Homo sapiens: one gene and its partners. The protein of the gene in region 1 purifies or fractionates together with the protein of each later gene. This does not show direct contact. Each region holds a gene or a part of one and is shown in the gene's direction. Other genes may lie near its edges. The genes, in order: ZNF217, CTBP2, EHMT2 and CTBP1.

What was found.
Region 2: the proteins of ZNF217 (region 1) and CTBP2 purify together in Homo sapiens (affinity purification with mass spectrometry; 7 studies listed by BioGRID and IntAct, with this or other methods). This does not show direct contact.
Region 3: the proteins of ZNF217 (region 1) and EHMT2 purify together in Homo sapiens (affinity purification with mass spectrometry; 2 studies listed by BioGRID, with this or other methods). This does not show direct contact.
Region 4: the proteins of ZNF217 (region 1) and CTBP1 purify together in Homo sapiens (affinity purification with mass spectrometry; 12 studies listed by BioGRID and IntAct, with this or other methods). This does not show direct contact.

What each region holds. Positions count from the first base shown.
Region 1 is NC_000020.11:53,566,548-53,569,843, reverse strand, and holds the end of ZNF217 (zinc finger protein 217), read left to right. Parts: intron 1-579; coding exon of another isoform or gene 580-728; 3' UTR 729-2,773; downstream 2,774-3,296.
Region 2 is NC_000010.11:125,157,557-125,165,109, reverse strand, and holds the start of CTBP2 (C-terminal-binding protein 2), read left to right. Parts: upstream 1-4,546; 5' UTR 4,547-4,791; intron 4,792-5,152; exon of another isoform or gene 5,153-5,253; intron 5,254-6,332; exon of another isoform or gene 6,333-6,475; intron 6,476-7,553. UniProt on the Homo sapiens protein: Corepressor targeting diverse transcription regulators. Functions in brown adipose tissue (BAT) differentiation. Isoform 2 probably acts as a scaffold for specialized synapses.
Region 3 is NC_000006.12:31,894,697-31,902,710, reverse strand, and holds the start of EHMT2 (histone-lysine N-methyltransferase EHMT2), read left to right. Parts: upstream 1-5,012; 5' UTR 5,013-5,033; coding exon 5,034-5,075; exon of another isoform or gene 5,076-5,145; coding exon of another isoform or gene 5,146-5,721; coding exon 5,722-5,788; intron 5,789-5,886; coding exon 5,887-6,105; intron 6,106-6,194; coding exon 6,195-6,448; intron 6,449-8,014. Other genes in the region: ZBTB12 (zinc finger and BTB domain-containing protein 12), read left to right, coding at 1,406-2,785. UniProt on the Homo sapiens protein: Histone methyltransferase that specifically mono- and dimethylates 'Lys-9' of histone H3 (H3K9me1 and H3K9me2, respectively) in euchromatin.
Region 4 is NC_000004.12:1,246,131-1,253,939, reverse strand, and holds the start of CTBP1 (C-terminal-binding protein 1), read left to right. Parts: upstream 1-4,809; 5' UTR 4,810-4,984; coding exon of another isoform or gene 4,985-5,024; intron 5,025-5,211; exon of another isoform or gene 5,212-5,732; intron 5,733-7,809. UniProt on the Homo sapiens protein: Corepressor targeting diverse transcription regulators such as GLIS2 or BCL6. Has dehydrogenase activity. Involved in controlling the equilibrium between tubular and stacked structures in the Golgi complex.

The sequences.
Region 1 (3,296 bases):
GGATTTTCTTGTGCATGGCAACTGCCTTTTACTGAATTCTGATTCTTGGTTAAGTCATCTCAGTTAAATTACTAAAAGTAGCTCCAAAGTTCGCAGCATTATCTAGTTAGTCATTCTCCTAATACTTTCATAGCAAAAGTTGAACTTAAATAGAACCCAGGGCCAGGCGCAGTGGCTCATGCCTGTAATCGCAGCACTTTGGGAGGCCAAGGCGGGCAGATCACTTGAAGTCAGGAGTTCAAGACCAGCCTGGCCAACATGGTGAAACCCTTCTCTACTAAAAATACAAAAAAATTAGCCGGGCGTGGTGGTGCATGCCTGTAGTCCCAGCTACTTGGAAGGCTGAGGCAGGAGAATCGCTTGAACCTGGGAGGTAGAGGTTGCAGTGAGCCAAGATCGTGCCGCTGCACTCCAGCCTGGGCGACAGAGTGAGACTGTCTCAAAAACAACAACAACAAATAGAACCCATTGCATTTCTAGGTCAGTTTGGTTCTATGTATTACGCTTTTTTAAAGAAAGAATTTTCTAAACTGTATTCAGTTTTGATCTTAATCATTTAAAAAATGTTGTTTTCCTTAGGTCTTGGTGGATGTCAGTGCTTACTCCCCATGAAATTAAATTTTACTTCATCCTTTGAGAAGCGAATGGTGAAAGCTACTGAAATAAGCTGTGATTGTACTGTACATAAAACATATGAGGAATCTGCAAGGAACACTACAGTTGTGTAAAGTTGTTCTGTTAACTTTTGTACCAAATAGCAATACAAACTAGTTGGAACAGTTGGAACTTACATACATGGGGACTGGAAATCTCTATTTTGTCCCTGAATAATATTTTTCTTAGAATTGACCAAATAAGAAGTGGAATTTTTGCATACTTGAGCGCTGCTGAAAAGAAATCATTTGGGTTGGGTGGGGCGGGATGGGGGAAAAGTATATAATGCTTGCACCTCAGGTAAAAATCTGTAAATATCTAAGTTGTAAACCTGCTTGTTCAAATACTGTGTGTATTCCTTTTCTCTAATGCAGCTCATCACTTGGAGCAGTTTCTGCTATTGTGCTCTTTCATTTAAAATGTATGTTTTTTTTTTTTTAAACTGTCAATGATTTTGTATTATGTTGAATCCACCCAAATCTATTGTTGTCTTAAAATTGTTAATGGAAGTATTGACCCTCTATGATATGTGCTGCAGATATCGAGGTCAGCCATTCGGAAGCTGGCAGCATTTTATCGCAACTTTGAGCATCTCAGATGGGGAAGGCACCTTCTTCCTCGCCTCTCCAGATTGTCCTGGAACCTCCAGGATCCTTGACTGAGGGCGTTGGGATGGCTTGTAGGATTTTTAAGAGAGTGTGTCTACAGACAAGCATTTTCTCTGTAGAGCAGCCACACGTTGTATAAACATAAACTGTATGTGCAGTTATTTAAATTTGTTTCTGTCAAATTAATCATTTTTGTTGGACGATTCAGTGGCGGGGGGGTTTTGCCTAAATTAGTATATAAAAACAAAAATGCTAAATTATATCTGTGAATTGCAGGTATTGGGGAACAGTTTTAAGGGAAATTTTGGGGGGAACATTTTAGGTTTGTATTTGGTAGTCTTAATGTATCTGGCATTTGGGTGAACTGTGGACATACTAGAGTTGATTATAGACACATTGATTTTGAATAAGGAACTGCTGGCCGAGCCCGCTGGGAGTCTAGAAAGAGAAAATCTGTTTCTAGACCTCAGTTATTTTCCCATTTTTGGTTGTTTTGAAGCAGTAACATTTTTCTCAGTGCACATGCAATTTGGGTTTTAGAGAAGATGGCCACCAGCTGGCTTCCTAGATATTTTAAACTTTTGTTCTTTAATATGCTGTCCATGGCTGAGTTTATTAGTACATGGGCTTAGTGACCACAAAATATTTTATTAAGAAACTGTTTCAAAAATAAATTTGCACTGTTCATTTTTCTGGCCTCGCTGTTCTCCATAGAGCAAGGGTAATCCTAGAAAAAATTTTTTTTTTTTAAATTATGCAACGTAAGATGTCCTCCTTGATAGAAGTCTTAGCTCCTGTGTTACAAGGGAGAACTCATTTGAGATCAGTCTGTTGGCATTGCAATGAAGTGCTTTGTATCAGGAAAGTGTACACTATTGACCTTTTTTCCTGTTCACAAGCTGAGCCATATGTACATAATCTAGATTTTGTTTTCATAGTTTTGCACTTTTATAGCCTATTTTTGAAGATTAACACATTTGCAAGATGATTGACTCAATCTTTGCCTAATCCAATGAGTGTTACAGAGAGCTTGCTGTGACTAGAACCATAAATCTTAAAGGGGGTATGTGATAATAGAGGGCTGGAATTTAAACCTGTATTTAAAAAAAAGAATCACCAAATCTATTTGAAAACAAGTCGATTTGTATTATGCTGGAATTTTTTGGGCTTTCAGATTTCTCTTTTTAACCACATTTCTGAATGTATAAAAATACCAATTATTTTCCTACAGCCCTTTGTACTTCAAAATATGTTTTTGTGTCCATCAGTATTAACTATTGGTATACTACTGGTTTTATATTTTTTTTTCTTTGAGACAACAGTACATATAATAGAGGTACAATTCGTTGGATTTTTGTTTATGTATTTATTTCATTCCAGTTTGATTTATTTTAATTGTTGATACTTAAGTTGTCGAACAGTAGACATTACTTGTTTTATTTATGATATATTTCAGCTTAAAGTTATGTTATTATATGTGGAAGTGTAAATATAGATTTGGTGTTTTGCAATCTTGAGTTTTAGTGTTTATTGTGTTTCTGGTTTCTGATTTTGTTTTATTTAACTTTTTAGTTTTCTTTCTTTTTTTTTTTTTTGAGATGTGCTCCTGCTCTGTCACTCAGGCTGGAGTGCAGTGGTGCAATCACAGCTCACTGCAGCCTTGAACCCCTGGGCTCAACTGATCCTCCAGCTCTCGGCCTCCCGAGTATCGAGCCATCATGCCTGGCTTATAAACACAATTTTAAGGCCAGCACGTGGCTCACGCCTGTAATCCCAGCCCTTTGGAAGGCCAAGGCGGGTGGATCACTTGAAACCAAGAGTTTGAGACCAGCCTGGCCAACATGGCGAAACCCCGTCTTTACTAAAAATACAAAAATTAGCTGAGTGTGGTGGTGCACACCTGTGGCCCCAGCTACTCAAGAGGCTAAGGCATGAGAAATCACTTGAACCCGGGAGGCAAAGGTTGCAGTGAGCTGAGATTGCGCCAGTGCACTCCAGCCTGGGCAACAGAGCGAGACTCCATCTCAAAAACAA
Region 2 (7,553 bases), on another chromosome or scaffold:
GTGAGCCACCTTGCCCGGCCGAGCCTAGGATTTTCAATGCATAGTTGGAAAGGGCCATGGCATCTATAAAAGCAATATGTATTCACTGATTAGAATTAATTATGAATCACATAGTGATTATATTATAGCCAAAGAGAGCACTGTTATTCTATAAAACATTGCAACAAAATTCCCACATCCACTGAGGACAGCAACTGAGAGCTTCAGATAATTGCGGTTCTGAAGTGAGCTGAACCCTGAATAACAGAGATAGGTGAGTAACAATACAGTTAAGTCCAACTCCCAGTAACTCTCGCTGCACAGACCCTTGAAATACTCAAGTGCACACAACTAGTCCATTTTATTGCACAAAACAGTTCCGATAAAAGGACCCACCATTATCTAGGGCCACTATCTTTTTTTTCTACAACCATTGGTTCCTGGAAATGAAATAGGAAAGATAGGAAGCTGAGAAATAAGAACCTCGGTTAGAGGTCTTTGATTGTAGCGGGGGAGGCAGGCTGTGATGCAGCCGCAGGCCGGTCCCACGGGCCTTTTTCAGCCCCTGGGTTCCTACAGACATCAGAAGTGCTCCCGAGGAGGTATAAAGTAGGGAAGGAATTATGCCATCCTGTTTAAAGGCTGCCAGACGGAAGAAAATAAGTGCCTTACAAACTCAACGCTCCACACTGGGGCTGTGGATCTCTCTTTTCTTTCACTACTTTTTTTTTTTTTTTTTGATGGAGTTTCACTCTTGTTGCCCAGGCTGGAGTGCAATGGCGCGATCTTGGCTCACTGCAACCTCCGCCTCCCAGGTTCAAGCGATTCTCCTACCTCAGCCTCCCCAGTAGCTGGAAATACAGGCACGTGCACCACGCCTGGCTAATTTTTAGTATTTTTAGTTTCACCGTGTTGACCAGGCTGGTCTCAAACTCCCGACCTCAGGTGATCTGCCCACCTTGGCCTCCCAAAGTGTTGGGATTACAGGCATGAGCCACTGTGCCAGTCCAAGGGTTCCCATTTCTCCACATCCTCCTCAATACACGTTTTTTTCTCTTTTGTTGATAAAAGACATCCCGGTGGACATGAAGTAGTAACTTATCGTGGTTTTGATTTGCATGTCTCTAATGACCAGTGAGGCCAACCATCTTTTCATGTGCTTACTGGCCGTTGGCCATTTGTCTACCTTCCTTGGAGAAATGCCTATTGAGTCTTTGGCCATTTTTGAATTGGGTTTTTTGTTTGCAACATCTTAAAAAAAATAGTATGAAATAATTCACATGTTGGGGGCAAATGAGCTCCATATTTTAAAATGCAGGTAAAGTGAAGTGAGAAATACTTTTCAGCTCTCAGGATGCCTTGCTTTTAATGTCTTCAAAACAAATAATATATTAATAATACTTTCTCGGCCGGGCACAGTGGCTCACGCCGGTAATCCCAGCACTTTGGGAGGCCAAGGCAGGCGGATCACAAGGTCAGGAGATAGAGACCATCCTGGCTAACACGGTGAAACCCTGTCTGTACTAAAAATACAAAAAAAAAAATTAGCCGGGCATGGTGGCGGGCGCCTGTAGTCCCAGCTACTTGGGAGGCCGAGGCAGGAGAATGGCTTGAACCCGGGGGGCGAAGCTTGCAGTGAGCAGAGATCGCGCCACTGCACGCCAGCCGGTGACAGACTGAGACTCCGTCTCAATAATAATAATAATAATTATACTTTCTCTTTTTTTTTTCTTGAGACGGAGTTTCGCTCTGTCGCCCAGGCTGGAATGCAGTGGTGCAATCTTGGCTCACTGCAACCTCCACCTCCCTGGTTCAAGCGATTCTGCTGCCTCAGCCTCCCGAGTAGCTGGGATTACAGGCATGCGCCACCAGGCCTAGCTAATTTTTGTATTTTTTTTTTTTTAGTAGAGACGGGGTTTCACCATGTTGGCCAGGATGGTCTTGATCTCCTGACTTCGTGTTCTGCCCCGCCTTGGCCTCCCAAAGTGCTGGGATAACAGGCGTGAGCCACCGTGCCCGGCCAAGAACATGTTAGTAATACTTTCTAAGTCAGAATTCAAATTTATAGAACACGTGAAAGTGAAGGAGTGATATGGAAAATCAGGCTTTTTGTGGTTTCTTCCTGAGAAAAGAAGACCACTCAGAACCAAAGACTTCTGTGAAATAAGGAAGCAGAAAATCTTTATTTGTAGTTCTTATAGTTTATGCCTAAGAAACTCCGAAGAACAGGTACTGGTAACCCGGTAGCCTGGCGGTGGCCGCGGTTTGTTTACAGCCAAAAACTAGCTGAGGCGCCATGCCCTTGAGGCAAAACTGCTGAAGAGAGAAGCACCCTGAAGATCAGTTTGTGGAGATCCAGGGTTGCCAGAAGACGAGACAACCGTGATTGCATGTGCGGAGGTTCCTCGATGGAAGCGCAGCCCGGCGCGCCCCTCAGCTGGCCTGGCCAGGCCCTATGAAGGTCACGCGAAAACCCTGCTGCGGGCTTCTTAGCGACCGCATTACGTGGACTAGCGGGCAAGAAAAGCCTGGTCGGCGCTGCCCTCACAGGTAGGCGGTCTTCAATCACGTTTTAAAATCTTGTTGAGTGATTAAGCAATCTTCGATAGTCCCGGCCCCTCCACTGCAGGCCGCTCAGGCCGCAACGCACCTGGTGCGCTTTGGCAAACAAGCCCCGCGGCGGGCTGGGGCAGGATTTAAGAAATGTTTAATGAAGACTGGGAGGCCTGGAGCAACGCTCTTTGGGATGCAGAAAAGGGTCGTGCAGCTCGGTGGCCTCTCCTCCGGCCCCCTGGCCCTGGCTGTAAGTTTCCTCGGCTCTGCAGGGCGCGGGGCACTCAGGGATGGAGGAGACCACACCGCGCGGCTGGGTTCGCGGAATGGCGGTCCCTGCGGCCTCCAAAGGCGGGACCTCAGACCCCTCCCACTCCTTTCCTGCTCGACATCTCAATCCAGCTCCTAATATCTCAATAGGGTTTTTAAACAAATCGATCCTAAGGGCTCAGTTCAGCCCACCCAGGGATTCTTGGAGGACGCACGCCGAACTCAGGGTAGTGAGAAGAGTTTGGGGGGCCCTGGGGCGCAGGGAGAAGACCCCACACTCCACGGCCACCAGCTCCCTTCCGGAGACGGCGCTCGGACGTCGCGGGTCACGGGCGGGGAATTTAGCCCAGGTGCTCGTTGGGCCGCGAGCGGCCGCTGGGCCTGGATTCCCAGGCTCGCTGTGCAGACTCCAACCTTGAGACGTCAGGACGGCGTGGGCTCCGGGCCGCCGCGCAAGCCCAGGACCCCGAGTCGCGGGCCCCCACGCCGCAGCGCGCCTCCCTCCTCGAGACCCGGGGCTCCGACCCAACACAGGGCTTCTCAAATGCCCCGGCGAGATCCAGGCAGCAAGAGGGAACCTTTTTTTTTTTTTTCAATGTGTAAGAATGTTTTGCTTCTTTTAGGGCACAGCACTGCTGCAACTTGCAGCACAGAGGGCCCTTCCCTGCGCACCCACAGCGGTCGCCGCCTCTCCGGCACGGTCTCCCGGATCTGGATTTGGGGAGCGCAAGTGCCCCCTGTGGCCGGCCCGCGCCTGACCCCGCGGGCCTGAGAAGGCAGAAGCGGCCGGTGCGGGGCACCAGGAGGAAGTTGGAGCCCGGGGGCCGGGAAGGGGGCTGGTTGGCGCCGCTGGCTGGGCGGGGCCCCATGGGACCGGGGCCACCCGGGGCTCGCGTTCCCCCACGTGGCCGGCTGCCCGGTACCCCACGTGGAAGGGGCGGAGGAGGATGAAGGGCCAGGGGAGCAGCGGACCCCGAGCCACCGCGACAGGACCTCGGCCCCTGCCACCGAGGCCCCCGCGCCTCCCGAGGGCCTCCCGGGCGGGGCCGGGCTAGGGAGTGCCCGCCGCGCCCGGCCCCTGGCCCTCCCGCCCGCCGCGCTTGTGTGCACTTTCGCGGAGCCACTAATCCCCCGAGAGAGCCGATTTGTAGTGAGGAGTATCTGAAGGGGGCGAGGCCGGCCCATGTGGGGTTGTGTCATTGGTTTGCAAAAAGAGACCCCGCCTTTGCCCCCCCCCCCCAAAAACAGGAGCGAGGAGTGAGCGAGCGGCGACCCTCACCTCGCCTCCCGCCTAGCTCCTGCGCAGCCAGCGGGTACCGGGAGCTGCGGCCAGCGCCGCTTCTTTCCTTTCCTTTTCTCTCCGTTTTCCTTCTCCTTCCCCGGAGGAGAAAACAAATAAAGAAGAGCAAATAGCCGGGAGGCGCTCGGCATCCAGGACGTTCCCTCCCCCGATCCAAGTTGGAATTAGCATCCTCTCGGGGGTGAGCGCGGCGCGGGGCGGGCCCGGGCCGGGGACCCCCAGCGCAGCCCCCTCTCGGCGGGCGGGAGGGCGCGGGGCCGGGACGCGGGGGGAATTGGGAACCGGGTGGGCGGAGGAAGGGGGTGGGGTGGGTGGGGAAGTAGGAAGAGGCTCGGCGGCGAGGGGAGGAGGTGGAAGGGAAGGGAGGGGTAGGGTGGGGAGGGGAGGGGAGCGGAGGGAGGGTGGGGAGGGCGGGAGGGGGAGGGGCGGGGAGCTGGAGAGATTAAGTTTTTGTGTGTGTGTCCCTGTGTGCGTGTGTCATTTTAAGGTGGCTCGGGAGCGGCCCGGAGGAGCCGGCGGCGGCCCGAGGAGCGAGGGACCGAACCGGGAGCCATGCCGCGCTGAGGGGGGGCCGCACAGCCGCCGCCACCGCCACCGCCGCCGGGTGGGGTGGGAGGGGCGGGAGACGCCGCCGCCGCCGCCTCCAGGGTGGGCGCCTTTCGCCGTGGACGCCGACCGTCCGGGACGAGGTAAGGGGGGCCCCGGGGGAGGGCTGGGGCCGCCGCCGCCCCCGCCTCACCTGCGGCCGCGGGCTGGGGGCGCCGCGCCCGCGCCTCACTGCGCCACTCAGGGAGGAGGAGGAGGAGGAGGAAGAGGGCGAAGGACGCGGAGCCGGCATCCGAGGACATCTTTGGTCCGTGCCCCCGGCCTCGTGTCCCCCCTCGGCGCCCGGGGGTGGACGCTGGCTCGGGGGTCCCCGCCCGCCCCCGCCACCGATTGCGCCCGCTGGCCGCCGTTTGCGCCAGGATTTTTGTTGTTGTGATGAGAGTTGATGAATGCGAAGTAGGCGGTCACCTTCCTTCCCATCAGGGTTGAAAAAAAAAAAAAAAGAAACCCCGAGCGCGGCGGCGTCCGGAGGGCAGCGGCGGCGGCGGCGGCGGCGTCTCGGCGACGGTTCCCTGGGCGCCCCCGGCTCCTGCTCCCTGAGCCCGGTGGGTGCGCGCCCGGGGGCCGCCGGCGACCCAGGCCGAGCGCGCGACGCGCCGCGGGGACAATACGGCCGGATCTCCGGGGAACAGGAGTCCGAGCGCGCCGGGGTGCGGCGGGCCTTGCGCCTACGAGGCGAGGGTGGGGGGGGCGCGGAGAAGAGGGGTTCCGTGGGGAAGTCGGGGCGTGAGCGGCTCTCGGTCCCCAGGGGCGCTGCCCCTGCCGGCGGGGGATCCCGCGCGGCTCCCCGGGAGCGCAAGTGAAAGACGGGAAAGGAGGCGAAGTGGAACCCTTTTGTTTTGCCGGCCCCGCATTGTTGGCTCCTCCGGGCAGCCGGGCCACATCTGCTGCCGCTGCCGCCGCCGCCACTGCCGCGCGGGGCTCGGCCCGCCAAAGTCGCGGCGGGGCGGGGGGCCTGGGCGGGCCGGGCGGCGGGCGCGGGCGGGGGCCGGGCGGGCCGGGCATTTCCTCTGCCCGGCCGCGCTCCCGCGGGCACCACTTCCTCCTCGCCCGCCGCCGCCGGGAGCCCGGCCCGCCCGCCTCCCCCACCTTCCCCGCCCGGGCCGCACTTTTCGGGTGGGGCGAATCAAAAAGAAAAAGTTTAGCAGGAGGGGCTGGCTAGGGCGCGCCCCGGGCGGCAGGGACCCGGTGCGGCGCAGGGACAGCCGGGCCGCCGCGGTTCCTCCTCCTCCCAGCCCTCCGCGGCGCCGGACGGCCCCGCGCGGCCGAGGGGAAGCGCCTTTCTTTCTCTCCCTCGCGCTGCCCCCAGCGCCCCGGGCGAGTTGGGCAGAGGCGCGCGGGAGCCGGGGCGTGCCTGGGCCTTTCTCCCGCGGGAGGCCCAGCGGCGTGGCGGGTCGCCTGCAGCCCACGCCGCGCCCTGGGGCTCGGAGGCCGCGGGCCCAAGAGCTCAGCTCGGTCACCGCGGGCCGCGCCGAGACACACACGCGCGCACACACTCCCTCCCGTGGCTCGCTTTCCGCCGGCGACGACGGTCGCGGACACGGAGTGAGCGTGTGCGCGCGAGTGTTTGTGGTTGTCCCCCCTCCCCCCGCCCGGTACTTTTTCCGGAGGCGGCCCAAGCGGCAGTTGGCTGCAGAGGACCCCACGTTTAGGATTTTATAGGGAAGAGGAGGAATTTTTCGTAGAAATCCCCGCTCTGCGTGCTCGTGGTGGAGGCTGCTGGCAATGGCCTACGTCGTCATACCGGGCTTCCTTGCCCTGTCCGGGGTAAACAATCCTTCTGTGTATTTACCCCCTTTTTTCTTTAAAGATTGGAGATCGGGTTAAGTTCTTAGAGAGTCTGATGCGAGTGGCTGGAAGGATAGACAAGAGAATTCTATTCTATAAATATGCATTGGGAATTTAAAATGCTAAACGCCTTATTTGCAATTCTGTTGGATATTCTAGAGACTGGTATATTTTTATCTGACATGGATAATTTTGAGGGGACGTTATATTTTGGGGAAGTTTACAAAGTGATTCTTTCTGCCTTTCTAACTTGGGCGAAATATATCGACTCATACCACCCTTTCAAAAAAGATAGCTTTCTCTACTAGGTGTTTGGGTTCGAAGACAGTTTAAAAATTACCTCGTGTTCAGTACCTAAGATTGCTGTTTTGCCTCGAGGGTTTTCCAAGTAGAAGTGGGTAGTTTTCATGTACTTTGAGAATTCTGAGGTTTTTAACCCCCCCCTTTTTTTTTAAATATAAATCTTTTCTATTTTGAAGTAATGAGACTTTAAAGGATCTTGTTTTTGTAATCACTTGATTTCAAAGGATACTTCTTACAGCAATTATAAAGTAATAGTCAAAATGCTAATTAGACATTTTCAGTCATAGCTGCTTTAATGTTGAAACAGAATTTTTTTCTTTAGCAGAGACTGTATCGTAGAGTTGAAACGCTAAATATTCTTTTGTCTGGCATCAGATCTCTGAACTGCTCTGACATTCTCCTGAAAAACCCCTAGTGCCCTTTTTATTGCCCCCAAAAGAAAAGTTAATGAGATGGTAGATTTCAAGCAAAAAAACAGGCCCTCTTTCTTGCAAAATATGCTTACAGTTGCCATTGAAGTTGGATGTTAGCCGTGAATGCACTTGCCTTTAATGAAACCAGTTTAATCGTTCACACTTGATCAAGTATAACATGAGCAAACAAAGGAAATAAGCCAGCATATTTCTGTAGAGTGTAAGTGTTGATGTTGGGTCACCCCCTCCCCCTACCCTGCCCCCCTGTAAAAGGGAGAGAGGGTTGAAGGCAAAGGGAATTTATGGCGCTGATTGGTTTTTTGTGCCCCAGGGGTAGGGGA
Region 3 (8,014 bases), on another chromosome or scaffold:
GGCACTGGATCGTCTGGCTTTGTGGAAAGTGAAATCATATTTCAGGCCTGAAGGGCTGAGGCGGTTACTAGCTTTACAAGAGTTGGAAAAGCCTGGGAATGTGTCTGGAGCAACTGTGAGCACACTCAGCAGAGGAGGCAGGCGTGGGTAATAGCTACCAACAGCTCTGTTAGCCACGGGGCGGATGGGGCCCTGAGAGGTGCCACGGATGCACCCAGGGCAGCGCTCGGCACAGCTGGACCGGAGACGCACCACCCCTGGGAGCAGGTGGCAGCGCCCGCAGCCGAGAGAACGGGTGCGCGCGCGCGCTGCGGGATGCGGCGCGGGCGGGGCGCGGGGACGCGGAGCGAGTAGCGCCATGGGCAGCCGGGATTGGGGGGCGGGCCCGAGTGAGCGGGCCTCCGCGCGGCACTTGGCACGCACGCGCAAACTGGCCGCGGGGCTTGGAGGTACAGAGGAGGGGGAGCGAGAAAGAGGGGGGTGTGGAACGTATTTCCGCTCTGGCGGACAAATAATCCCGGCCAAAGAGGAGGCAAGGCCGTCCGGCCCTTTAACCGCGTGGGGGTGCTGGTGAAGAAAGGGGGGTCGGGAAGGGGGGATCCTGCTCCTTTAATTCCCTCCCCTCTTCCTCCTCCCCGAGTCCTAGCCGACGCCGCCGCCGCCGCGCGCGCGGGGCCTGGAACACACGGCACGAGCCGCCCCCGCCCCTCCCCCCTTACGCCCACGCGGAGCCGGCCCCGCGCGCGCGCGCGTCCCGTGCATCCCCGCGCCTGCGCGCTGCCCAGGCCCTGCCCGTGTGTGGGGGTCGCTGCCGGCCCCGGGGGGGGGTGGGGAAAATAAGGGATTAAAAAAACAGCGCGCGGAACCGGGCCAGGTGAGAGGAGCGTGCACTCAGGGTCGTGGGGCTGGGGGGGCGTGCCACGGAGCTCTGAGCGTGGGGGCAGGGCGTGCACGGTGCGTGCTGGCGGCGGGGGGGAGGACGTGAAAAGCGCGTGCAAACGTGTAAGGGGGGGGCGGAGGAATGAGGCAGCCGGTAAAGGGGGCGGGGTGAGAAGAGCCTGCAACCGGGGCCACCTTGGAGTCCAGAGCCCCAGGCCTCTGGCCCCCCTTTTTCTCCGTCCTTCCACCGTGGGCGCGCGGGCTCGCCCCATCCTAGCGGGCTGCTGGGCTGGGGGGTGTGGACGCCGCTGCCCCGCCCCCGAGAACCACGCCTCCCTCCTCTCAGAGGGACAGCACCTCCCCAGGGTTGGGGAAACTGAGGAAGAAATCTGAAGACCGGGAGATCGGATGCCGGGGGGCTGGGCAAGAATGGGGGCGAGGGTCCTGGAGCCTTGGCTTCGGAGAGCCAGAGACCTTTGTCTCTGACCGGTTTCCTTCCCAACCAGGGTTGCCCACCCCCGCCACAATGGCCTCTGGGGTGGAAGTCCTGCGCTTCCAGCTGCCCGGCCACGAGGCCGCAACGCTACGGAACATGAACCAGCTCCGGGCAGAGGAGCGGTTCTGCGACGTGACCATTGTGGCCGACAGCCTCAAGTTTCGAGGCCACAAGGTCATCTTGGCCGCCTGCTCACCCTTCCTGCGGGACCAGTTCCTGCTGAACCCCAGCTCGGAGCTGCAGGTCTCCCTGATGCACAGTGCACGCATCGTGGCCGACTTGCTCCTCTCCTGCTACACGGGCGCCTTGGAATTCGCTGTTAGGGACATCGTCAACTACCTTACAGCCGCCTCCTACCTGCAGATGGAGCACGTGGTGGAGAAATGCCGGAATGCCCTCAGCCAGTTCATTGAGCCCAAAATAGGCCTCAAAGAGGATGGGGTCAGTGAGGCTAGCCTTGTGAGCAGCATCAGCGCCACCAAGTCCCTCCTCCCTCCAGCCAGGACCCCAAAGCCAGCCCCGAAGCCCCCACCCCCACCTCCTCTACCCCCTCCACTCCTGCGGCCAGTGAAGCTGGAGTTCCCACTGGATGAAGACTTGGAGCTGAAAGCCGAGGAAGAGGATGAGGATGAGGATGAGGACGTGTCTGACATCTGCATCGTCAAGGTGGAGTCGGCCCTGGAGGTGGCACACCGGCTCAAACCCCCTGGAGGCCTGGGAGGGGGTCTGGGCATTGGAGGCTCCGTGGGTGGCCACCTTGGGGAGCTGGCCCAGAGCAGCGTTCCCCCCAGCACTGTAGCCCCACCGCAGGGTGTGGTGAAGGCCTGCTATAGCCTGTCGGAAGATGCAGAAGGGGAGGGCCTGCTGTTGATTCCCGGAGGCCGGGCCAGCGTGGGGGCCACCTCGGGCCTGGTGGAAGCAGCAGCGGTGGCCATGGCTGCCCGGGGGGCGGGGGGCAGCCTGGGGGCGGGGGGCAGCCGGGGACCCCTGCCTGGGGGCTTCTCAGGTGGAAACCCCTTAAAGAACATCAAGTGCACCAAGTGCCCGGAAGTGTTCCAGGGCGTGGAGAAGCTGGTCTTCCACATGCGGGCGCAGCACTTCATCTTCATGTGCCCTCGCTGTGGCAAGCAGTTCAACCACAGCAGCAACCTCAACCGCCACATGAACGTGCATCGTGGTGTCAAGTCACACTCGTGCGGCATCTGCGGCAAGTGCTTCACACAGAAGTCCACCCTTCACGACCACCTCAACCTGCACTCGGGAGCGCGGCCCTACCGCTGCTCCTACTGCGACGTGCGCTTCGCCCACAAGCCTGCCATTAGGCGGCACCTCAAGGAGCAACACGGCAAGACCACGGCCGAGAACGTGCTGGAGGCCAGTGTGGCCGAGATTAACGTCCTCATCCGCTAGCCGCGCAGGCGTGGAGGCCAGGAGGCTGGGGCCCCTGGGCTGCGTGGAAAAAGGGCTCTTTGGCCCAGGAGAATTGGGGGGTGGGGGGTCTGGGGCAGAAAGGTAAGAGTGGGAGGCTGAGCAGATGCACACATCCTGAGAGAGGGAAGATGATTCCTTGGAGAGACTTGCTCTTGAGAGTGCAAGAATCTGGAGCTGGGAAAAGGGTTCTTGGAGGCCAGGGGAATACGGGGTCCCAGAGAAAGATTTCCTTCTCTTAGAAGTGCATGTATATGTGGAGGGAGGGAAAAGGGTCCTATAGAATGAGGGAAGACAAAAATGTTTTATTCCTGGCTAAGGCTGCCCAGGGGAAGGTTCTGACATTTCTCGAGATAAGAAGGGTTGGGGGGTGGGTGGGAACAGGGAGGGAATTTGGCAGGAGGACATGCTCCTGCTTAGAATAGACCTGGGGTGAGGGAGTGGTAAGGGGAAAAGATTACTGAGTCCCAGAAAAGGAAGTGGGAGACAGTTCTTGCATGCTGGGGAAATGAGACTGCGAGTATGAGGCTTGCTGAAATTTGAGGGAGAACAAAGTAAGACGCCAGGTAAGAGAACGTGGGGTGCGCATCCTGGGTAGATATTGGGAAGTGGGGGTACAATAGCAAGAAACAATGGATAGTCATGGGGGTGGGGGGGATAGGGCACTTAGAAAAGAAAGAACACAAGAAGGGCTGTTGGGAGGGAGGGAGAGGAGTAGAGACATACAGTATTTTTTAAGAAAAAACATATTTTTTAGGATTTTTTCTGGAGTTTGGGGTTTTAGTTTTTCTGCTTTTGTTTTCCACAAAATAAAAAACAAAAAAAAACTTTTTTTTTTCCTTTACACTCTGGCAACTGCGTGTACATGACTATCCTGCCCTAGACAGCCTCTCCCTGTGATGCTGCGTTCTTAATACCTAGAGGTCACAACTCTGCATATCCCTTGCCTGAAGGAGCCCAGCCCTAAACATGGGAGAGGAGTGTGACAAGTGAGCTCCTCTGGTCAGGGACTCCCCCAAGTCCCCACCCCCAGCCCTCCACCAGTTCTGCAATCTCAACACTTAGCCAGGTACCTCACAGTACAAGTGATTGGCAGTCGTGGGGATGCACATGAACTCTATTTGAGGGACTTAGGATCAGTGCTAGGGATGAGCTACAGGTGGCCAACCTGCCCACGGAAATTGTAAGCAGGAGTCTGTTTGGTCATATTTTGTCTGGGGTAAATAGGTCATGTCTTCAGGAAAGCTAAAAAAAAAAAAAAAAAGCTAAGTTTGGATTAAGGTGCAGGGAAAACTACAATTCCCAGAAAGCTCTGGAATAGTTAACCAAAGAGAACTACAGTTCCCAGAAGGCCTTTAATTGGCCTCAGGTGCCCCACCTGCCTGTGTCAAATACTGCGTGTGAAATCATACAGATCTTTTCCAAACTCGACCAAAACGTAATACCTAAAGGGATGGTACCCTAAATACAGCTATCGAGATTGTCTATCTTGGTGTATATCATTTATACTTAAATTGTCCGCTGGGCTATGACCCACGGAGTACCTGACTGTGCTTATGAAGTGTTCGGCAAAAAAGGTTTACTTACTGCAGTGTCACCAGTCAGTAATGACGTTCGGGCCGCTGGGCTTACCTGGATCCCTAGTGCGTGTGAAGGTGTAACACGCCTGATATAAACAGAAGAGACATTTAGCCACAGGTTTTCAGAAGGGCACGCTGCTCCAGGGGACATGAAGCAGCATGCTAGAACCAGCCAAGAATAAAGGTGTCCTCCGCGTCCCTATCGCCCCTTCGTGCTCGTTAGAAAGAGCAAAAAGGCGAGGCCAAAACTGAGGCCAAGCCTTCTATCTGGTAACCCAAAAACTAGAAAGGCAGAAAAGCAACCAGAGGCGGGAAAAGCCCAACCAGGCCAGAGGAAATACAGCCGCTGCCGAGAGCCGAGAAGTTCAGAAGCTCCGCTTGTTACCTAAAACCAGATGGGGACAGAGACGCCACACCTGGGCCCAGGCGTGTCTCGCCCTCGGTCCCTGCAGAACTGAGGCCAGGAATGACAGGAATTCTCCCTTGCAGCTCCCAGCTTAGGACAGTCACAGCCATCTCCGAGGCCGCTCTCAGGGGAAAATGGCCAAAAAGCATGTAGCGGCTCCTTTAAGGCTCCTCCTCGCCCTCCCTCCCTCGCCCACGTGACCCGGGGCGGCCGCGCGCCGGCTCGGCCCCCAGCGCAAGCGGCGATGGCGGCGGCGGCGGGAGCTGCAGCGGCGGCGGCCGCCGAGGTGCGGAAGGGGAGGGGGAGAGGCGGGTGCATGCCCGCGCGCGCGCCCGGGGGAAGCGCGCGCCCGTGCAATGCTCCGGGGGTGCAACGGGGCCGGGGGGCCCGGGCGGGACTTGCAGCAATCCAGGGGGCCAGCACCGGGGGCGGATGAGGGGACCAGGGTGTGGGAGGTGGGGGGAGTGGGCACGGAGGCGCGCGTGCAGCCGCCGGCTGCCCCTGAGTGGGCGACGGGCGCCGGGGCCCCAGGAGCACGCGTGAGGGGCACGAGGGGCCGTCCACCGGGCTGGGGGGCAGCGGGTGCTGGAGGGGTTGGTGCCCGGGGTCCCCGCGGCCTGGGGGACAAAGGGGGAGCGGCGCGTGCAGCCGGGAGGAGGGGGCGGGGCCGGGGCGCGGAGGCCCCGCCCCCTCCCCCTCCTCTTCTCTCGGCCCCAGAGATGCGGGGTCTACCGAGAGGGAGGGGGTTGATGCGGGCCCGGGGGAGGGGTCGTGCGGCCCCTCCGGGCAGCCGAGGCCGCGGAAGGGGGGGGCCCCACAGAGGAAGAGGTAGGCCCCGGAGCCTACTCTCTCTTCCCAGGGCCCAGGCATCCTGGACCCCCCAACTCTCTACTGGGCTGACCAGCCCTCCTGTCCCTTGTCTCCCCTCCCAGGGGGAGGCCCCCGCTGAGATGGGGGCGCTGCTGCTGGAGAAGGAAACCAGAGGAGCCACCGAGAGAGGTGAGTGCAGCTAAAACGGGCCCCAATTGGACCGTCACCTTCCCTAAACACAGGATCTCCTGAGCCCTTAGCTCTGAACTTTTTCTCTTCCTCTACAGTTCATGGCTCTTTGGGGGACACCCCTCGTAGTGAAGAAACCCTGCCCAAGGCCACCCCCGACTCCCTGGAGCCTGCTGGCCCCTCATCTCCAGCCTCTGTCACTGTCACTGTTGGTGATGAGGGGGCTGACACCCCTGTAGGGGCTACACCACTCATTGGGGATGAATCTGAGAATCTTGAGGGAGATGGGGACCTCCGTGGGGGCCGGATCCTGCTGGGTGAGAGGCTGGGTAGCCTGGGGGGTTGGTGGGAAATTTCTGACTCTTGCCTTCTTTCTTATCTTGCCTTTTGCTTGCCTGTTTTCTAGGCCATGCCACAAAGTCATTCCCCTCTTCCCCCAGCAAGGGGGGTTCCTGTCCTAGCCGGGCCAAGATGTCAATGACAGGGGCGGGAAAATCACCTCCATCTGTCCAGAGTTTGGCTATGAGGCTACTGAGTATGCCAGGAGCCCAGGGAGCTGCAGCAGCAGGGTCTGAACCCCCTCCAGCCACCACGAGCCCAGAGGGACAGCCCAAGGTCCACCGAGCCCGCAAAACCATGTCCAAACCAGGAAATGGACAGGTGAGTGGGATGGGAGAGATGGGATAATCAACCATAAACCTTTGGTGAGCTCTTTTACAGTTTCACTTAAGGCTTCTACTCCATTTACTCATTCACATATTTAAGCAAGGGGCTGCTGTGTGTCAAATATTAGGCTGTGCTTGATCTGTGAACCAACAGACAGGTTCCTCTCTTCCTGCAGTTTACATTCTTGGGTGGTGAAAGTTTGATGTTAAAGAGTCAATTATATAGTTAATGTCTTAATTACTCTTATGATAATGACAAGGTAAGGGAATTTCAAACCACTCTTCCTTTCTACCTCAAAGCAAGCCCTTGGGGAACTCATCTGTCACTGCTCTATTTGTAAAGTTTTTCCTGGGAATCCCAGTGGGAAAGGAGATGAGGGCCACAGAAATAATAGAGGAGGGAAGTGACAAGGGCACCAGAAGCTTTATGACCAAGTTCTAGGGTTCTTGGGTCATACCTATTGTTGACCTAAAGGAAAAAACTGAGGCAAACTTAACATTAAGTAAAGTATATTTGGTCAGGTTTTGAGGACAGCCTTTAGGAGCAAAGATTCAAGTTGCCGTGAAAATACACTCTGATTAGCAGCAGTTATAAGTAGGGGTTTTTTTGTTTGTTTTGTTTTGTTTTTGAAGACAGTTTCACTATGTTGCCCAGGCTGGTCTCAAACTGCTGGGCTTCAGCAATCTTCCTGCCTTGACCTCGCAAAGTGCTGGGATTACAGGTGCAAGCCACCACAACCAGCCCACAAGTAGGTTTTTAAAGGAAAAGAAGATTGGATGACGTGAAGATATTGAAAAAAAACAGGCTGACTCTGGGCACACTGCGTAGGAGTTAGCCCTGCTCTGGAAGGAGCCGCAAAAAGAAAAAAAAAAAGATAAAAATTTTTTAAAAGATTGAAGAAATAACAAAGGAAAAGAAGAGGCAGTTCCTAAATTGTTTACCAGTTTACATTAGAATAACAAGCTATTGATCTGCTATACATTGTTCTTTGTCTCACAGATATTAGGCACATGAAGATAATGGGTGAAGCAGCACCCTAGTCAGGTACAAAATGCCTTTAAGCAGTTGCCTCCAGGCATGGGCCCTAACCGTTCCATGCTGACTTCTCGCTGAGCCTGATCAATTTTGCCTGCTTCACATAGCACAGGTTGCTATGAGCTACCTTTCCTTTCTCACTATGATAAACATTAATTTTTATAGTTGCAATTCATTTTGTAAAGAATAGGGAAGAAAAGGAAAATTGAATTTATAAATTAGGTACAGTGAGAGATTAACAACAATAATAACATAATAGCGTAATCCTAACAGTAGGCCAGGCGTGGCTTGCCTATAATCTCAACACTTTCAGAGGCCAAGGCCGGCAATCACTTGAGGTCAGGAGTTCGAGACCAGCCTGGTAAACATGTCCAAACCCCGTCTCTAACTAAAATAATAATAATAATAATAAATTAGCCAGGTGTGGTGGCGTGCGCCTGTAATCCCAGCTAGTCGAGAGGCTGAGGCAGGAGAATCACTTGCAGTGAGCCAAGATCGCGCCACTGCGGTTCAGCCTGGGCAACA
Region 4 (7,809 bases), on another chromosome or scaffold:
CTTTCCCATGTGAGTGTGGAGACTTAAACCCCGGGGCTCCAGACGAACACTCTCCTGGGCTGCTGCCCTTTGGCTCTCACACTTTAAGACCTGGTTTTCAGCCTTCTGTTTGTCTCTGGTTCCTGTCACATCCCTGACCTCCTTGTGAGCTCAGCTCTGCATCAAGTTTGTTGTTTCTATCTTGTGCTCACAAGTTCTGTTCTGGGAGGCTTTTGGGGTTAGACCATCACAGGTAAAGACAGAAGGGGAAATCTACTTTTGCACCATTTCTAAGATCAATTTCTAGGCTTGTTTTCAGAACATTTGCCATCCCCCTCTGTTCTGGTTTGAATAATTGTCCCCTCCAAAATTCATGAAGTTTGATTGTCATTGTGATGATCTTGAGAGGTGGAACCTTTGAGAGGCGATGCAGCCACGAGGGCTTTGCCCTCCTGAATGGGCTGGTGCTATTATCATGGGAGTGGGCTTCTTATCAAAGGGTGGGTTCAGCACTCTTTTCTCTCTCTCTCCTTGCCCTTCTGCTATTCTGCGATGTGATGATGCAACAAGAAAGCCCTCACCAGATGCAGCCCCTTGAGGTTGGACTTCCCAGCCTCCAGAACCATAAGCCAACAAGCTTCTGTAAGCTGTCAGTTACCCAGTGTGCAGGAGTCTGCTATAGCAGCACAGAATGGATGAAGACATCATTTTGCAATCCTACAAGAAAGGTGTTCTTTTGTACTCATTTCATCACTGGCTAAACTGGACTCTGGATGGCTAAAGTAACAAGGCAGGTCTGTCTGCTTCCAGAGGACCTGTCCTGCTGCGGCGGTTCTGGGCTCCCCTGCGCTTTGTGGCATTTTACAGCTTGCAGTCATCCTGCAAGGTAGATGTTACTTCTCTTCCCATCTTATGGCTGAAAACCAAGCCTTACAGCAGTTATACAAGTTATGTGGCAGTTTTCAGCGATTGTATTAAAAAATATTTTAGGTAAACAATGTGGTGTATATACGCAATGGTATACCAGTCAGCCTTACAAAGGAAGACAATGCTACCATATATGACAATATAGATGAACCAGAAGGGCATTATGTGAAAAAACCCAGGCACAGAAAGACAAATGCTGCACAATCTCACTCACAGGTGAAATCTAGAAAAGCTGAACTCACAGAAGCAGAGGGTAGAATGGTGTTTACCTGGGGCTGGGGCCGGGCAGTGATGTTGGTCAAGGGATACATTTCAGTTACATTGGAGGAATATGTTCTAGGGATCTATAGTAGGACATGGTGACTGGAAAATTGCTAAGAGAGTAGATGTTAAGTGTCCTCACCACACCAAAAAACAAAAAGTATGTGAGTTAATGCATGTTAATTAACTTGATTTAGCCATTCCACAATGTATTCATACTTTAAAACAAGTTGTAAACAATATATACAAGTATTATTTGCCAATTAAAATACATACATTTAAAAATATTTTAGATATTTGTCCATTTTTGTTTCAAGTTTACTTGCTGGTCATTTTATTGTTAAAAAATTCTTGGTTGTTTTCGGCTGGGCACAGTGGTTCATGCCTGTAATCTCAGCACTTTGGGAGCCTGACGTGGGTGGATCACCTGAGGTCAGGAGTTCAAGACCAGCCTGACCAACATGGTGAAACCCCATCTCTACTAAAAATACATAAAATTAGCTGGGCGTGGTGATGGGTGTCTGCAATTCCAGCTACTCGGGAGGCTGAGACAGGAGAATTGCTTGAATCCGGGTGGCAGAGATTGCAGTGAGCTGAAATTGCACCATTGCACTCCAGCCTGGGCAACAAGAGCGAAACTCTGTCTCAAAAAATAAAAATAAAAATGACTGGTTTTTTTTTCTGTGTGTACATGACTGACAAGACCAGTGGTTTCCTTTAATACCTCATCGACGTTCCCAGGCACTTTTTGTATTTGAGGTGTGTGAAGTAATAGGTTGGCCCTTGTCTTGAGCGTGATACTGAACACACCGACTAATAAAATGGGGGCCTTTGGCTGCACACCAGGCGCTCTGGGTACTGATGAGCTCGCCCCCAACTCCATGCCAGGAATCAGAACGGTTGCCCGGGAGAGTCGGCAGAAAGAGGAGGAACCGGATGCAGTGATCTACCTGGTTTGTCCTGGTGTCCAGTAACTTGGAGTTCTTCTTTCACACGTGGCTGGCACAGAGGAGACACTCATAAATACCCGAGTTGAATAAAATAGTCCATTGACATGGAGTCGCATGAAGCAGCATTCGTCCATCCAAAACGCCGATGCTTCTTTAGAGTGGACTGAGTTTTCCCCCAATACTAGGTTGTCCCACGCGATGGACAAAAATAGCCCATGTGGCAACGGAGGCTGGCCGGGGGGACCTAATGCCCATGCCTCTGGCATTCCCACCAAGGTGACTGTCCAGTAGCTCCCAGGACAGCCCATCCGTGTAGGGCAAACGCCATGAGCCACTCCTGTGTGCAGGCACAGGGCAGGCCCAGGCACAGGGAGGCGGGTGGGCAGGCACACAAACAGCCAAACGCTGACCCTGGAGGGCGGTGGTCATCTGCTCATCACAGGGGAAAGACTGGAGGTGGGAGAGGCAGGTGCCACCCGCAGGAGTTGGGACGAGCTGTGCACACGGCTGGGCACACGCAAAGCTGAGCCTTCTTCGTGAGCAACACGGTCACATTTGGGTGTAGGAATCTTGGCTGGAGTTGCCCAACGTGGGGAGCAGACAGCTCTGCAGCCAGGACCCCAGTTGGAGAAGGCAGCGCTTGGAACAAGCCAGGACAGTGGACAGACGGGCCGGTGCCAAATAGAAGTCATGATAACGCGCTGACAAGCTGTGCAGACGAACACTGTGTGTAGACGGAGGCCATGGAGAGTGACGATGGGGAAGACGCTGGATCCCTGGCTGGCCTGCATCCCTCTCCGTTCTCAGTTGCCTGTGGAATTCCGGGGAGCTCTGCTCCAGCTACACTGCACATAAAAGTGCGCAGGAAGTGGATCCTGGAGAGGAACTGTTCTTCTGGACTGAGCTTGCTGCTCATGGCAGCCCCACCTGCAGGACCCAAAGCCTTATGTGATGTTTGCTGGACACTCAGCCACGTGGCTGCCTGTTGAGCTCTGCAAGTCCACGCGGGAGCCAGGAATTCCTCCCCAGAAGTCTCTCCATTATATTCACCACCCCCTAGTAAATCACAACCTGACTTGCTGCAGAGGATGGAGTGCCTGGGACTCGTCTGACCCCAGCTCCCCTGGGGAAGTGGGGGTGGTACGTCCCTGCACCCGGCCACGTGCTGCCTTCTCCTGGGCTGCCTGTCCATGCTGAGCAGACAGGAAAGTCCAGTGAGGTCCCTGCCTGTGCACTCCACCAACCACATCGTCCCTTCCCGGCAGCCTCACCTAGGCCCCTCCAGCTACGACCCCTTGTCCCCTGCACCGATGCCTGGCCTTGGAGGTTGCTGCTCATTTTTCTGGAATTTTTTCTTAGATCTCTGCAGGGCTGCCCCTCCCCCTACAAGGGCTCCACACGTGTTCCCTCCTTCATGACTCCCACTGGGCTTCCCCGACAGGGCCTCACCCTCCCCAAAGCTCTGGTGACACCTGCCAGGTTTCCTCCAGGCCACAGCTCGGCAGCCCGATCTTAGAACAGAACGTGGCACGCAGGGCAGGTCTGGCTGAGGGCCCAGCATTGTCAGCGGGGTTGGAGGTCTTCCCGGGCCTCGAAGGGGAGACGTAGGCTTCTCAGGGCAGCCCAGGACGCGTCCTCACGAACCACAGCGAAATTACAGCAGGTATCTCGCGGATAGGAGTCTGCATCATTCCGTCTCCATGCCGTGGTTTCTGAAATTATGCAACTATCTCGGCATTCCAGAGGGCTCAGAGTAGCCACGCGCAGAGGCCCTCCCCATGGGGTGGATGGAAGCGTCCACTCGCGGCGCGAGGAATATCCCTGGGCCCCTCGGGAGAGTCTGCAGGGGCAGCCCCTGGGTGAGCAGGCCCAGTGCGGCCTCTCCCTGAAGGGACTTTCGGGCCCTCCCGGGTCGGGGCTTCACCGGTAGCAGGCAGGGCTTTGATATTAATGCTTAAAGGGAAAGCAGAGCTGAGCTGTCAGGACGTTGGTTAGCTACAAACCCTACTCTTGTTAAAAGAGAAATGGGGTCGGGGAAGGGGTTCTCCAGCCCTGAACTTCCCGGGCCGGGCAGGACGCGGTCCCTCCAGGAGTCGGGGCTCCCCCGCCTGGGGACGCACTGGGGCAGGCGCGCTTCTCCTCTCGGGGTCCCATGTGCCGCCGGCTCTCGGACGGTAAATCAGGGCTCGGGTGGGGGCGATGGGGGGCCCGCGGCCTCGGTGCCCCTGGCCAGCCTCGGAGGCGCACGGGCCAGGCCGCGGGGCGAGAAGCGAGCGCGGGAGGGCGGCAGCTGGCGGAGCGGGAAGGGAGCGGGGCGGCTGCGGCTGCGGCGCGGAGGAGCGCCATTTACGTTCGGGCCCGCGCCAGGCGCTGACGTGGGCGGCCCTGTCTCGGCTTCCGGGCCCGCAGGGTCCTCGGGGCGGACGGCGCTCCCGCCAGCGGCGCTGAGTCCGGCCCGACCCTGCCCGACTTCCTCGGGGACAGGCGGTTTAGAACGTGCGGAACACCAGGCCCGGGGCCTCCGCCGGGCTGCAGCCCCGCGAGCTTCCCGCCAGGCTCCCGCCCCGCCCCGCCCCGCAGCCGCGTCCCGGCCGGGCGGGCCCTGAGCCGCCCGCGTGAGTCCGTGCGCCGCCCGCGCTGGGAACCAGGAGACCAACCGCGAGGCCCCGCCCGCGCGCGCCGCCGTGTCCCCGCCCGCGCGGTCGTCGGAGCGCGGCTCAGCGGCGCGGCGGAGACTCGGCACGGCGGCGGCCAGGCGCAGGCGGGCGGGCGGAGCAGCGGACGGCGCCGAGGCCGCCCCACGCGCCGGGCTCGCGGCGGCGCAGCGCGCCGGAGTGGTCGGGGCCCGCGGCCGCTCGCGCCTCTCGATGGGCAGCTCGCACTTGCTCAACAAGGGCCTGCCGCTTGGTAAGGCCGCGCGCGCGCGCGTTTCCGGCCGCGGGCGGGGGCGGGGCGGGGCGGGTGCCGCGCGGGCGGGGGGCGCGGGGGCGGACCGAGCGCGCGCCCGCGGGCCGCCGGCTTTGTGTGCGAGTGCGCGTGCGCGCCGGCGTCCGCGCGTGGCCGCGGTCGGGGGCGGGACCGCGGGAAGGGTCTTGCGCATGCGCGGGCCGCTGCGTGTGCGCGAGCGCCGCAGTCTGCTCTCCCCGCCCGCGGCCCGTGCAGGTGACACAAAAGGGCCTGTGGGCCTCTGGGCTGCCCCGCCGGACCCCCAGCTCCACCGACCCCAGCCCCGTCGGACCCGGGACGGCACCCCGGGTCCCGATCCCCGGCCGCTACCCCGTCCCCGGTCATGACCCCGTGGCTGGGCCTGCGGGGCCGGGATGGGGCGGGAGCCGTGCGCAGCTCGGGGTGTCCTGGGGCGCGCGCTCCCGGGCCACTCGCGGGAGCGCGCCTCCCGCGGGGAGGCCGCCGGCGACCGTGGCCGCGCGCTGTGGGGGAAGGGGACGGGGCGCGGGTGCCGGGTATGACCGTGGAGGAGGCCGCTGCCCTCAGACCGGGCCCAAAGCGCAGCCCCCGGCGGTGACGCGGGAGGGCCCGGGGTCTCCGTTCCCGCGAACTCCGCGAGGTCCCGGACCGGCCCAGCGCCCCCACCTGCCCTTGCCTGGGCCCGCCCAGGTCCCGGGGCGCCTTCCTCGCGGGCTGCGGCCGCGGAAGCAGGGAGCACGGGCGGGCGCCGGGCTTGCCACCATCGCCATCTTGCAGCGCCCGCGTCCTGGGCCGGCCCGAGCCGCTGCGCGGAGCCTCTCTTTCCCTCGACCCGGCTGCAAAGGCAGAGTCCGTGCGCCTGAGCCCCGGGCCGAGACTGGAGCGTTCTCTGGCGGCCTCCAAGGGCGCCGGTGTCTGGAAGCCCGGCCTGGGCCAGATCCCTTTTGCTGTCGTCTCCGTGATTGCCGGGACAGAATTCCCTTCCAGTGGGGAAAAGGGAAGGCGGTCGCGCCCTTCCCGGTGCCCTGAGTGGGGAGGTGAAACCCTGAGAGTTGGGGCAAGAGGGCCTGGAGCTAGGGCCGAGGCGGCGGGTGCGCAGGGTGTTCCGTTGAGCCCGAGCCCCCCCCCCCTCCCCGGCCTCTCCACCGTTTCTGTAGGAGCGCGGCAGGGAGCACACGTCCCTCGGGAAGAAAACGGCGCTGGCGGCTGGGCCCGCACCGCGGCCGTCCTCGCTGAGCTCCTAGCGCGTGGCCTTTGCGCGTCTGTGTACCCGTCTGCAGCTTGGGGCAGGGTTGGGGGAGAACCGTGGGGTAACTATTTGCCGTTGCAGCTGAGGATGACAGCTGCGGTTTGGGGGTCCCCCTTTCTGTGTCCTGGAACTTTGTAGGGCGTGGCTCTGCCCTGGGCCTCAGCACCCGGCCTCCCAGGTCTCCCCTGCCTGCCCGGGCCTGGCCACCTCCCTCTGGGGTCTGGGTTTGGCTCCTGGTTGGGGCTGTCGGCTCCGCAGACGCCTTTTGCTCTCTGTGATTCTGTTGCCCATCTTTGAGCACCTGCTTCCATACAGGCGTCCTCTGCAGAGCTCTGGGAGGGACACGCACTGGGGGTGGCATCTGGTCACTCCTGGGGGTGCCTCGTCCGCCTGCCCGGCCATTTTTGGGGTGTCTGCCATGTCCCCAACATGCACTTCTTCCTGTCAGCCTTGACCAGGGCAGCTGTTAGTTCTGAGAGGTGGGCGTGTGGTTGGGGATGTCAGCGAGTAGGATCTTCCCTTTTACTCGCTTGTCATTAACCTGAGAACGTGGCAGTGGGGGAGGAGAGGCTTGGCCCGGGGTGCACAGGACTGTGGGCTGGTCCTGTCCCTCTGATGAGTGGGACGAGCCTTGGTCCAGTCCTGTGGGCTTGGCGCAGAGCCGGCCCCCTGCCATGTCCTGGTGGGATTGGAAGTGCTGGCTCGTCCTGTCTGCCTCCCCCAAGGGCTGGGAGCCCCCCACTCTTTGGACATTTGTAGTGTAAGCAGACAGCAACTGTTAACCATCATTCTGTTAATAAATTTTTTCTGGAGGAACCCTGGACAGAAGTAGTCATGCTCTCCAGGAAACGGGCCCCAGGCTCGAGAGGCCCAGTCTCTTCCCTCGGGGCTTAGAGGTGGCCGTCAAGCCACACCTGGTTCCCCACCAGCCTGGCAGTTTTTCTGGTTTTTCTCCTCTGACTGTCACTTGCCCTCTCAACTTCCTGCGGCCAGTACCCCCAGAATGTGACCTGGTCTGAGCTGACGGTGGTGTCACTGAGCCAAGAGGCGTGTGGCTGGCACCACTAGTGTTGCTGAGAACTCTTCAGGCAGCACTTTGTGCCCGGCTGTGCCCTGGTGCTCCCCATGCAGTGCCCAAGTCAAAGGTGTGTGCCCTGTGAGGTGTTTACCCCGGTTGACTCTCCTTGTAGAAGGACTTAATGTTTCCCACTCCACTGGGGGCTGGAGAGGGCTCCATCCAGGTGGTGCTGACGGTGCAGGCCTGGCCCAGGGCCCAGGGGTGGCCAGGAGGTGGTAGAGGCAGCAGGCAGTGTCATACGGGTTCTGTGGTTGAACTGCATCGCCCAAGGGAACGCTGGTCGGAGCGCCGGGTGGAGCGCCAGGGTCCTCTGGTGGTCGCTGGATGTTGGTAGTTGTGGGTAAGAGCTCTGTGCCGGGAGTGTCTGGACCCCCGGGTCCTCCATTGTCAGCTGCAGTGGCCGGAGCCCACTGCTCTCCCCCGCACTGGGTCGTGGTAAC